Linked DNA regions of Homo sapiens. The protein of the gene in region 4 purifies or fractionates together with the protein of the main gene of each other region. This does not show direct contact. Each region holds a gene or a part of one and is shown on either strand. Other genes may lie near its edges.

Region 1 (3,500 bases), on a different chromosome or scaffold from region 4:
TTATATTTTTTCCACTAATACATTTTAACTGTGTAGAAATATAGTACTTCATAGGATTAACACACATATTAATAGAGGTTTAATCACTGAAGAAAAGCATTATGCTTACAGAATATGCATCTTCTAGGTTTTTTGTTTTTTTTTAAATGGCTAGGTGGCTGAATAGCATACCCTTTACAGGCACAGCAAACCGTCTGAATAGCAGCTGCTCAGTTTAACTTATTCTTTTAAAGGGAAATATATTCTAACAGGACATGTAGCTGTTGAAAATTTTTAAGAAAAACCTGATAGACACCAATTTAAAATTGTTTCAATTTAGACTCAAAATGAGACCACTACAAATAGTCAACAGCAGGGGGATGAGACAAATGTATATTAAACAGTTTGTTGAAATGCTTTCCAAAGATCATAAACAAAAGCAGCCTGTTTGTAGCATAGCTCCTGGTGCTTCCCTGGGCATACACAAACAGCACTATTTAGAACTGGTCTTCTTGGAGCTGGCCCCTGCCACCACTGCTCCTGAAGCTTACATCTGTAGAAACCTGCACATTTCCCTGCAGGTTCTCTGATACTGTATCTTGAACTAGAGCACCAGTCAGTTCAGTTGCAGGTTTTGAGAACATTTTAGCTGCCATCATGGTAGGGCTAAGTGTTCATAATAATAAATTTTGCTTCCTTCAAGAAACCAGTTTGCAGACGGATGACAGCAGTGATCAAAGTCACTTTAGTTTCTGCAATTTCCAAAAGTACTTCCATTTGTTTCAAATTCATTTGCTGTCACACCCTTTGCTAAAACGGCTACCAGCAATATCACTAGGGCTGTTCGGTAAACAGTAAAGTGGTCAACTTCACCAGAAGCCACTTCAACAGCTACCACAATTACTGGTTCCTTTTTAGTCACAAGTATCCTCACTTCAGTTGTGAATATATGGTATGGTAATTCTGAATGACAGTCATATGGAGTAATGGGCAAAGGCAATAAAAACAAACTCTTGCCACTGCCTGTCATGACCTTGATCTTCCTCTGCTGCTCAACATCATCAAGAGGTGCTCCTTCATATTTTTCTAAATGCCACCCACAAAGCCATTCTCACTGTCTGGTGGGCACCCTGAGAGCCTTTGCTGGAAATGCCTCCCTGGCTCAGCCTGCCTACCAAGCTCCAAGGCCCTTCCCTTCACGGCCGACACGAGGCCAGCCTGGAAGGAACCCTGATGAAGCTGCTGTTTCAGGGTCATATTGGTGCCATCTGTGAGGAACTCCATGACTCAGCAAGGATCCTTGCACTCTCATAGGTAACTCAAGGCCCCCAAAGTGGTGCTGTGGTTGTCCGAGTGCCCAGGGAGCCTCTCGAGTGTGGTGAGCGTTGGATGATGCCCCAGCAGTGCTTCTCAGACCGCCTGAGGGGAACGCTGGAGCTTCCTAACTCAGGAGACCAATTTCTAAATACAAAAAACACTCCTAATGGGGAGGGGTCAGGGGCACAGGGATCTTCATATCTCAAGGCTTCTGTAAAAACAGACCTTCAGATAAAATGTGGAAAGACTAGCAAAAGCAAATATACAATGTGTGACTCAGGTTGAAGCTACGTAACTTCTCAATAGTCCAGAGGCCCTAAGACCTAATAGTGGCCAAACAATTATTTCAAAGGCCAGACATATGCCCTTTAAGGGCTGTTTATACCCTACTGGTCACATGAAAAGATATAAATGAATGAATGAATGAATGAATGAAAAAGAGAAAGGAGCTTGAACTGGCAGATAACTTTTTAAAAGCCATAAAGAGGCCAGGCGTAGTGGTTCATGCCTGTAATCCCAGCTCTTTGGGAGACGGAGGCGGGCGAATCACAAGGTCAGGAGTTCAAGACCAGCCTGACCAACACAGTGAAACCTCGTCTCTACTAAAAATACAAAAATTAGCCAGGCATGGTGGCGCATGCCTGTAATCCCACTGTAATCCCAGCTACTCAGGAAGCTGAGGCAGGAGAATCGCTTGAACCTGGGAGGTGGAGCTTGCAGTGAGCCGAGACTGCATCACTGCACTCCAGCCTAGGCAACCGAGCAAGACTCCGTCTCAAAACAAAAAATAAAATAAAATAAAGATATTTACTGTGCTATGTTGTTCTGGTAGTATACTTGTAAGATTTTTGCCAAAAACCACCCAAAAAATATTTTTCAATTTATCAAGCAGATTATTACACATCAAAACCTACCAAGTAATGATGGAAAATATGAAGTTAGTTTTTTTTTTTTTGAGACAGTCTTGCTCTATTGTGAACTGTTATACTAAAGATAGACAGATATAGTCTTATGCCTATTTCCATTATCTGCATAATGTAACCTTTAAAAATATTCCTTAAATTGTTAACTTTATAGGAATAAGATACTGGAAAATGGTTAGAAAGTTCACCAAAACCTTACAAACTCACATGTCCTCAACTGTAATGTCCTTGAGGATCTGGCAGTAGTCCACATTCCATACAGCCTGATCGTCCCAAACCTTGGAGGCAAGAAGAATGGCTCCCAGAACAATCCTTTTCCAGTTGGTGGGACAAATGTCGATTTCAGCATAAGTTAAAAGCCTTTCTAAGTAAACCTGTAAAATAGAGCACTGGTCTTTGATTTTAGTTCAGTTTAAATGCTTTGATAAGCTTTTTTTTTTTTTTTGAGACGGAGTTTCACTCTTGTTGCCCAGGCTGTAGTGCAATGGTGCGATCTCGGCTCACAGAACCTCCGCCTCCCAGGTTCAAGTGATTCTCCTGCCTCGGCCTCCCGACTAGGTGGGATTACAGGCATGCGCCACCATGCCCAGCTAATTTTTGTATTTTCAGTAGAGACGGGGTTTCTCCATTTTGGTCAGGTTGGTCTCGAACTCCTGATCTCAGGTGATCCACCAGATCCTCCCAAAATGTTGGGATTACAGGCGTAAGCCACCGCGCCCGGCCCCGAAATGCTTTGATAAGAATTCATGACTGACAAATTTCTTTTGTTTTTGACCAGAAAATAAGTGCCTTTTATTCTTATGTTCTACAGAGACTTTGCTTACTCAGCCAAAGCAAGACACTAAATCACAGTTGTAGGTCAGATATCTCTGCTGCCTATTCTGCCCATATACATTTCCCACCCAGTCACAGGAATGACTGGACATCTCAGCAAACAGCATCATCAAGAGAGGCACTCTTATCACCTCCACACCCATAATAGAGTTGTTCAATAAATAATGAGTGCCTACCAGGTACAATGTATCATACTTGCATGGTAGATAGTAATTTTACAGGTAGCTATATTATGCTCAAATATGTAAAACCCAAGTAATACTGAGCACATTTTTACCTTCTCCTTTTCACAGTAACTAACCCTTTTGTGGCACTAGCTTGAAGAACTGCTGGTCAAGAGAGCCACCCAGTGGCTGCTGTGCAGAGCAGCATGACAGGTCTTTAGGCTGTAAAATATTCCCCGTATTCAGTGCCTCCACAAGGAACACAGATGGACAAAAGGATGTC
Region 2 (2,427 bases), on a different chromosome or scaffold from region 4:
GTTTTTCTGGAAGGTGCAGAGTCGGCTTTCCCCAGGGACACAGGCTCTCCCTTCCCTGAGGCAAGGGGCTCTGCTTTTCTGCAGGATCCAGGATCCACCTTCTCTGAGGCCTGTGGTGTCTCCTTTTTCAAACACACAGCCCCTGCTTCCCCTGGTGCTGCAGCGCCCTCTTGCCCAGGGAGCTTTGTTTCTGCTTTGCCACCAGACTGCGGCTGTGCTTTCCCCGAGGCCCTGGGATCCGCCTTTGTGGTGGTAACAGGACTCCCCTTCTCTAGAGGCAGAGAACCCACTTTTCCCTCTGGGATAGCTTCTGCTTTTCCCAGGGACACGGGATCCACCTTCCCCGAGGGCACCGGGACTGTTTTTCCTGGAGTTGAGACCACTTTACCTATAGACACAGAGTCCCCTTGTCCAGAGGGGCCAGCGTCTGCCTTTCCCTTGCTCACAGGGTCCTCCTTGCCCACCGCGAGGGGCTCGGCCTTCCCTGAGGCTGTGGGAGCCGCCTTTCCAGAGGCCACCAGACCTGCCTTCTCCGAGGACAGGGGATCTCCTTTTCCCCCCGTCGCTGGCTCAGCCTTTACTGCAGATGGGGGACCTGCTGTCCCCAAGGACCTGGGATCGCCTGGACCTGAAGACACAGGGTTTGTCTTTCCTGAAGACTCAGGATTCACTTTTTCAGATGATGTCTTTCTACTTCCAGCAGATATGGGGTCCTCCCTTCTGGAGGACACCGGGTCCTCTTTTCCTGGGGATACAGTTCCTGCCTTTCCCACAGACACACGCTCTGCCTGTCCAGGAGACAAGAGCTCTGGCTTTCCTGAGCACATGGGGTCCATCTTTCCCAGAGAAACTGGATCCACCTTGCCTGAAGACATGGGATCCACATTTTTCAAAGATGTGAGATCTGTCTTTGCTGAAGCCGTAGTATCCGTGTGGCCAGACACAGGACGCCCCTCTCCTGAGGAGGCAGGGTCCATCTTTCCCAGGAACCGGGAGTCCTCTTTTGTGGCAGGCACAGTTTCTACATTTCCCACAGATGCGGGATCTGCCATCCCCAAGCATGTGGGATCCAGCCTTCCCAAGGACCCAGGAGCCCCGGTCCCAGAGGATACAGGCCCATTCTTGCCTGATGAGCCTGGAATCAGCTTGCCCAGGAGCCCCGGCTCTGTCTTTCCTGTGGACGCAGAATCCATGCTTTCCAAGGGCATGGGATCTGCCTTTCCCGAGGGCCCAGGATCTCTCTTTCCCGACAATACAAGATCTACCTTTTCTGCAGATGTAGGAGCGACCTTTTCTGAGGACACAGGATGCTCTTTTCCTGAATACCTGGGCTCCTCCTTTCTTGGGAATACAGGGTCCACTTTGTCTGAGGACACAGGATCCACCTTTCTCAAAGACCCAGGATCCTCCTTCCTCGGTGACACTGTATACGTCTTGCTGGAGCACAAAGGATCTACTTTTCCCAGGGATCCAAGATCTTCCTTTCTTACAGTCATGGGATCCATCCTTCCAGGAGCCACAGGATCCCCCTTTCCCAAGATTTCAGGCTCTGCCTTTCCTGTAAACATGGGATCTGCCTTCCGTGAGGACCCAGGATCCTCCTTTCCTATGGAAGTGGAATCGGCCTGCTTTGAGGACTTGAAATCCATCTTCTCTAAGAACATGGGATTTCTGTCATCTGAGGATTTGGGCTCAGTTTTCACGGAGGACACAGGCTCTGGCTTCCCAGACGTGGTGGCTTCTGGTGTCCCTGAGATGGAGGCTCCATGTGCCTCCAATGTCTCCTTGGAGGGTGACTCCTGGGGAGAGAAGCAGGTTGGGGAGGGGCAGGCCAGGCTCCCTCTGGGGCCGTCAGAGCAGGAGGCCCCTTCCCCAGCCCCACTGGGGCTTCTGTGTCTAGACTCCATGCCTGGGCTTTGGTCAGGGGTGTGCCTGGGGGGTGCAGGGCTTGCCTTTTGCTGGGAGGGGCAGTAATCCCTCATAGCCGAGCTGCCAGCCCCCAGGCTCCCATCCTGTGGGCAGAAGAAGGCTGTGGGTCGGGGTCCTGGGGGGCTGGAATCCTTTTGAAGCAGCTGGAGCCAGGCCGGGTCTTCAGCAGTGTCCATCTGCCCTCATGACCACGCCTGCACCCAAGGCTGCTGTCTGGTTCTGAAACAGAGAGAGAGCTGACTCAGACTTCCCAAAGCTCAGTGGGGGAGGAGACTCTGCCTTCTCCCCTTCCTCACTGAGTGCTGTGTCCCATCTGGTCCCCACCTGTCCAGAGGACCTAGACTAAAAACACAAACCCAAGCATGTCACTCCCCTGCTTCACTGCTCCCAGTGGCCCTCTGTATAAAGACGTCTTACAAGGCATTCAACGCCCTTCACAACTTGGCCACAGCCTAACTTTCTTTTTCTTTTTCTTTTTTGAGACAGAGTTTCGCTCTT
Region 3 (3,500 bases), on a different chromosome or scaffold from region 4:
TAAATTCTAGACATCATATTATTTCATTTGTAAATATTTCAGTACGTATCTCTGAAAGACACATACTTTTTGAAAGGCAATTATAATGCCATTATCACAGCTTAAAAGTTTTTTCCAACAATAATTCCTTAATATCATCAAATATCTAGGTCGATACTCAAATTTCCCAACTGCCCCATAATTTGGGACTCAAATAAGGGCTATACAATATGATTGATTTGTCTTTAAGTATCTTTTAATCTATAGGTTGTCTCTCCATTCTTTTTTATCTCTTACAATGTATTTGTTGAAGAATCCAGTTGGTTTGTTCTGTAGTGTCAACCTCTATGGATTTTGCCTGTTGTATCCCTGTGTTATCATTAAGCATGTTCCTCTGTTCCCTGTATTGCCTATAAATTGGTCATCAGTTCTAGAGGTTTAATTAGATTCAGCTCCAATTTTTTTTGGCAAGGCTATTTCCTAGGCAGTATTGATTTCTTCCATTAGGAAATGCAAACTATCTAGTCGGCTTCTTTTTGTAATGTTAGTAGCCCTTGATGATCATTGTCTAGATCCACTATTTCCTAGAGGCTGCAAGATGGTGACATTCTAATTCTATCATTCCTTCTTCATTGAAATAACCTGAATACCTCTTTAAACAAAAACTTCCTCATCAGCTCTCAGATTGCCCAGGTAAGAAATTCATAAAGAAAACACAGAATAAATGGTGATTCTTTCCCTTAACAGTTGTCAGAATAAAAACCTGATTTCCTAGCATTCTCTCATGCTGACCAATGAGATTTCCTCAGAAGTAACATTAGAAACTCATAAATTTAAATGTATTTAATGGGTTTCAATTCTTGGAAGTTGTTGCCCTAATTGATGCTCAAATTGTCCTATCTTTGGCCAGTGGGAGTCTCTTCAAGTTCGTTCCCAAGTCCTTTCAGTGTGACCCTACTGTCTTTAGGAGCTTCCATGTTTTCTAATAAGAGGATGTTCTGGGTTTATCTTGTACCTCTGCTGCCCCTGACTTGGTACCAGCCATTTCTCAAAGAAGCCTGTACATTTCAATGGAAAATAACATATTATTATTGGGTTGGTCATTTTTCCTAGGCCCTTTCAAAGAACACAGCAGGGAATATTTTTGTTTTATTTTAGATAAAATACAATGTGATCCTTGCAATTCAGATGAAGGAATACAGAGTTTTTCTTAAACTGTCATTAATCTTACATCTGTGTATCCTTTTTGCTATGCTGAAAATCCGTTAGCAACATCACCGACCTAATTACTCATTTGCTCTAAACCACAATACACATGCAACAATCTCAGAATTAGCAATACCTACATTTCCCTAACAAGGGCATGATTTAAAACAATTTACCCTTTTTTGGCCATTTCTTTTTGTCCATATATATATATGGACAAAATATATATATATATATATATATATATGGACAAAATATATATATATATATATATATGGACAAAATATATATATATATATATGGACAAAATATATATATATATATATGGACAAAATATATATATATATATATGGACAAAATATATATATATATGGACAAAATATATATATATATGGACAAAATATATATATATATGGACAAAATATATATATATATATATATATATATATATATATATATATATATGTCTTTCATACATATCCATATTCTACTATGGATGTTCAGTCAAATTGCTGAGTTTTAAACTTGGAATATTTCCTCTCTGTGTGGTTAGGCCAATTACCAGGGTACAATTAAGTTCATTTGATTCATTCTGCTTTTAATTTTTAGGGATTGCTTTTTACTTCAATTTTTAACCATGTCAAGGTTTACATCAGTTCAAAGTCAAATCCACAAAACAAGGTATAATTTTCTAAAAAGTCTATCTTCCATCTATGTTCATTATACCCTATTTCTCTCCTTCCACCTAGAGAAAGGATCTTTACTCTTCATAGAATAAAACTAAATTTTACTTTGCAACTCATCTTTCAACTTTTTATCTGAAATTGAGAAAAACAAGTGTCTGCATGTATGTGTGTGTACACATACACTCTCACCCTTTCCTAGAAAACTGAGGATATATTATCTACATTTTCTCACTTTGCTTTTTTTTTCACTTAAATTACTTCATAATAGCATATAGAGATATTCCCCATTTCTTTCTACAGCTGCATAATATTCTGTTTGTGGCTAGACCAAAGCTTATTCAACTCTTTCCCTATTGATGGAAATAAGGGCTATTTTCAATCTTATGCTACTATCAATTGTGCTAAAATGAACAGACTTGTACATATGTATTTCTATGTACATATATATTTAAATAACTTACAATGTTATAGCTACATAAAACAGTCTTTATATGTGGTATTACAAGATGTTATCTGGACTTACCATGTCAGTAATGTAGATAATATCACCTTCCTCAAAGTATAATTCATCTGGCTAGAAGAAAAAAAAAAGTTTGACTCCATGTGATTTTTCATGAATTAGAATATGATTATATAGATTCAAAATTCTATCATATTCTAATAAGCAATGTGGTTTTATACACTTAAATCAGCACATAAGCCATATAATAAAACACTACTGAAAAATTAACACATGAATAGACGGCTAGATTTTTTTCCCATGATGAACTTCAAAGAATTACATATATAAAGATTCTCCACACACATCTTGCATTCTTCTACAACCAAAGCAAGACATTTGTATATCAAAATAGAGTATTAATAAAACTTCTTCCTTGTAGAAATTCTAAAAGGTGGTATACATTTTTTCATAAAAATATAAATGTCTAGAATTAGAGTCATGAAAAACAGCCAGAAGCTTGATTTTCTCTTAAACAAGGCCTCAATCCTTGAACACTTTAAGATCAACATCTGCTATCTGCTCATTTTAAGAAAATCATTATCCTAGCTCTTCATGTTCAGGGAGAATGAACATTTTCTGTATGAGAAAAGTTAATATGTAATTCAACCATTAATAAGGCTAAAGAGCTAAAAGATATGAAGCAGTAACTCAGCCAGTCCAGAAACCCCAAGCAGCTCTAAGGAGTTGGCTAATTACACAGACCATATGTGCTCTGGCCTGTACCAACCAAATGTTCTAAAAACTTTCTGAGGCCAGGTGCGGTGGCTCATGCCTGTAATCCCAGCACTTTGGGAGACCAAGGCAGGTGGTTCACAAGGCCAGCAGTTCAAGACCAGCCTGGCCAAGATGGTGAAACCCCATCTCTACTAAAAATACAAAAATTAGCTGGGCATGGTGGGGGATGCCTGTAATCATAGCTACTCGGGAGGCTGAGGCAGAGAATTTCTTGAACCCGGGAGGCAGAGGTTGCGGTGAGCTGAGATCACGCCACTGCACTCCAGCCTGGGTGACAGAGCGAGACTCCGTCTCAAAAAACAAAACAAAACAAACAAACAAACAAAAACAACCAAAAAACACTTTCTGAATAAAGATACACATTTTAAACATCTTTTGACCATCAGTAGATA
Region 4 (3,500 bases):
GCAGCCATTGCTTTGGAGAGATGGGAGAGAACATGGCACTAAGGCAGAATATGGCTATATTTACTTTGAAGAGCATGTCTTTGTCATAGAAATAGTCACTGTCATGGTTTGGTGGGTCCCAAGGCATGGGTCATGGCTCCAGATCCCCTTTCCAGCCTTTTGGATCTTGGTAAGTCTGAACCCACTGCTGCGTTGGCAAGGCTCTGGAAACTATAGTGACAGAGAATGATTCACAAGTGTCAACACTCAGATGTACAGGGCTGCCAGCTGACCCACTCTACCTATTTCCATCTGGCACTGAACTGGTTGATCATGAACTTCTTTTCATAATTGCTTTTTAGTTATGCAGGTTAAGACATGCCGAAACAGATGTACCGGACCCACAAACAAGTCCTTCCTTGAATGCCTGAGGCTTCCTAACAGTGAAAGAGCCCTGTTCTTAGAGTAGGCAAACTGATTCTGAGGCATTGTAGGTGGTAGGGATCTGGTAGTAGGTAGCATTAGGTGGGCTCCCGGCACTCACCATGGAGCCTTGAAATTTTCTGCTACTTTGGGGGAGTTGCTGGTTCAGAGAAGGCCCTTCCACCCTGGTAGCCATGTGGCACTGGAAGGCTGTGAAAACTCTGCTGGGCCTTCTTAGTCATCTGTTGTGAGCTCCTGATGGGAGTGTGGTGTATCCCTCAGGTGTGCTAGACTGGAACAAAGGCTGAGAAGTGTTGCTCTGGGGGTTCCAACTTGTGGGCATGGGGTACTGATGAGATCAGTAGTGTTTGGAGACTTCTGTATGCTCCATCTTCAGAAGACATTCTGGAGTCCATATAAGTTATCTTGTCTCTTGTTTGAAGCAGGAAAAAGGAATGCGATTGCTGGTAATATAGTTCACTAAAGTCAGCTACCTGGCCTCTAACAGTTATTTGCAAAGTATATTATAACATTGATTCCTCAAACATCTAGATTCCTATCTCGTGCCAAGTGATGTACTAGGTGCTCTAAGTACAAAAATAAAGGAATATAGTCCTCCTCTCAATGCGTAAGCCTAGTGGAAGAAGCAGAAATGAAAGGGAAATAAGAATTCAATAGAGTATGAGGCATTACAGTGAAAGAAACCAAATGTCTTAGAAGTACAAATGGCAGAGCTACTAATTCTGTCTCGAGCAGGCAGGGAAGAGTCTATAGTGGAAATGACTTTTGAGCTAGATTTTGAATTGAGCTAGTCTTTTGAGCCAGACTTTTGAGCTAGAATTGTAGGGTTGTCATCAGACCAGAGAGTAGGAAGGGTACCTTGTGAGGAAGAGAGAGAGAGATCAGATTGTTACTGTGTCTATGTAGAAAAGGAAGACATAAGAAACTCCATTTTGATCTGTACTAAGAAAAATTGTTTCTGCTTTGAGATGCTGTTAACCTGTAACTTTAGTCCCAACCCTGTGCTCACAGAAACCTGTGCTGTAATGAATCAAGGTTTAATGGATTTAGGGCTGTGCAGGATGTACCTTGTTAACAATATGTTTGCAGGCAGTATGCTTGGTAAAAGTCATCGCCATTCTCCATTCTCGATTAACCAGGGACACAGTGCACTGCGGAAGGCCGCAGGGACATCTGCCCAAGAAAGCCTGGGTATTGTCCAAGGTTTCCCCCCACTGAGACAGCCTGAGATATGGCCTTGTGGGAAAGGAAAGACCTTACCACCCCCCAGCCCGACACCCGTAAAGTGTCTGTGCTGAGGAGGAGTAGTGAAAGAGCGGGGCCTCTTTGCAGTTGAGATAAGAGGAAGGCTTCTGTCTCCTGCTCATCCCTGGGAATGGAATGTCTCTGTGTAAAGCTGACCATTCCCATTCGTTCTATTCTGAGATAGGAGAAAACCACCCTGTGGCTGGAGGCGAAGTATGCTGGCAGCAATACTGCTCTGTTACTCTTTGCTACACTGAGTTGTTTGGGTAAAGAGAAACATAAATCTAGCCTGCGTGCACATCCAGGCACAGTACCTTTCCTTGAACTTATTCATGATACAGATTCCTTTGCTCACGTTTCCCTGCTGACCTTCTCCCCACCTGTTGCCCTGCTACACTCCCCTCGCTAAGATAGTAAAAATAATGATCAGTAAATACTGAGGTAACTCAGAGGCTAGCGCTGGTGCGGGTCCTCCGTATGCTGAGTGCCGGTCCCCTGGGCCCACTGTTCTTTCTCTATACTTTGTTTCTGTGTCTTATTTCTTTTCTCAGTCTCGTCCCACCTGACGAGAAATACCCACAGGTGTGGAGGGGCTGGCCCCTTTCAGTATCTCAGAAGGGACAAAGTACACAAAGGCATGGGGTCATGATAGTGCCTGGTATGTTCAGGTAGTGAAGAGGTCCATGTGGTATGAGCACTGCAGATGATATGTGTCGTATGAATTAAAAATACATAGTTACTGCAAATAGTTTTTACAGGTTATTGTTTTTAAGAAAGCAGTATCTAATGCACGAGTGTACTGTCAGTACTGTCAATGAACTACTTACCACTCAAGTGACTGCTTATCTGTTGTTCTGTCCTCTCAAGCCACCTACAGTCAGAAAATGGTCTTGATTTTACTGATGTTGCTGTTAATAATAGCTGTGACTTCTTGAGTACCCACCACATGCCAGGCCCAATGTAGGGGCTTTGCATCCATTATCCATGATCTTTACAACAACCCTGCAAAATTAGGTATCAGCCTTATTTTAAAGTCTTGACAGCTTGTGACTTCCCTGAAGTTGCATAGGCAGGAAGAATCTAAGTCAACATTCGAATCCACGTCAGTCTCATGAAGCCTGTGCTCTTTCCTGCGTGCCATGCCATAGTTCTAGTTAAGTGACAACTCCTTTCCTCCATGACATTGTAGATCCAGTATGCTAAGGAACCCTCTATTTACAAATTGTAAGTGATTAAACAAAACAAACCTGTTAGTGGCGCTTATACATCCAAATGAGTGTTGTTATTCAAAGAGGTTACTTGGGGAAAGAGAATGTATACACCTATTCCATTGTTCATACTCCTTGTTACTCATCTGGAATTCCCTTTAAAGTCAGTTTACATATCACATAAGAAGATCCATCTCATTGCTTTATGATCATCTATCATTTTCAACCAAAATAGTTCCACCTAGTTTGATCACACATCTTATTCACTAACCTTGGCTCTGACTGACTGTTTGCCATTTCCAAAATTTGAATCCACCCTCAGTGAAAATTTAGCACCATTTGGGATAGTCAGAAGATCAGACTGCAGGTTCTCAAGGTGCTTCCAAGAAGAAAGCTTCAAAGATGATTTGAGTAATGAAGTACCATTGGAATTACTGCATTGCCTCCCAAGGGGACTGGTTAAAGGAGAGAAATCTCATTTGAATGTATAATTTCCAGTTTTAAAAGTATCATTCCTATTACTTGATAATTACACACACATTGTTCTTAGCTGTGTTCTTTGAGGGCCAGGATTTGGAGGTGCTGAATTACGTGCTGAATGAGTGGATGTTGGGTACAAATAGA

The links. Proteins that work in one complex are often made in the same cells at the same time.
Region 1: the proteins of TMEM185A (region 4) and CCNYL1 purify together in Homo sapiens (affinity purification with mass spectrometry; 3 studies listed by BioGRID and IntAct, with this or other methods). This does not show direct contact.
Region 2: the proteins of TMEM185A (region 4) and GPRIN1 purify together in Homo sapiens (affinity purification with mass spectrometry; 3 studies listed by BioGRID and IntAct, with this or other methods). This does not show direct contact.
Region 3: the proteins of TMEM185A (region 4) and OSTF1 purify together in Homo sapiens (affinity purification with mass spectrometry; 3 studies listed by BioGRID and IntAct, with this or other methods). This does not show direct contact.

What each region holds. Positions count from the first base shown.
Region 1 is NC_000002.12:207,746,140-207,749,639, reverse strand, and holds part of CCNYL1 (cyclin-Y-like protein 1), read right to left. Parts: intron 2,594-3,500; coding exon 2,427-2,593; intron 1-2,426. UniProt on the Homo sapiens protein: Key regulator of Wnt signaling implicated in various biological processes including male fertility, embryonic neurogenesis and cortex development. Activates the cyclin-dependent kinase CDK16, and promotes sperm maturation.
Region 2 is NC_000005.10:176,597,730-176,600,156, forward strand, and holds part of GPRIN1 (G protein-regulated inducer of neurite outgrowth 1), read right to left. Parts: intron 2,149-2,427; 5' UTR 2,106-2,148; coding exon 1-2,105. UniProt on the Homo sapiens protein: May be involved in neurite outgrowth.
Region 3 is NC_000009.12:75,126,514-75,130,013, reverse strand, and holds part of OSTF1 (osteoclast-stimulating factor 1), read right to left. Parts: intron 2,446-3,500; coding exon 2,395-2,445; intron 1-2,394.
Region 4 is NC_000023.11:149,625,293-149,628,792, reverse strand, and holds part of TMEM185A (transmembrane protein 185A), read left to right. Parts: intron 1-3,500.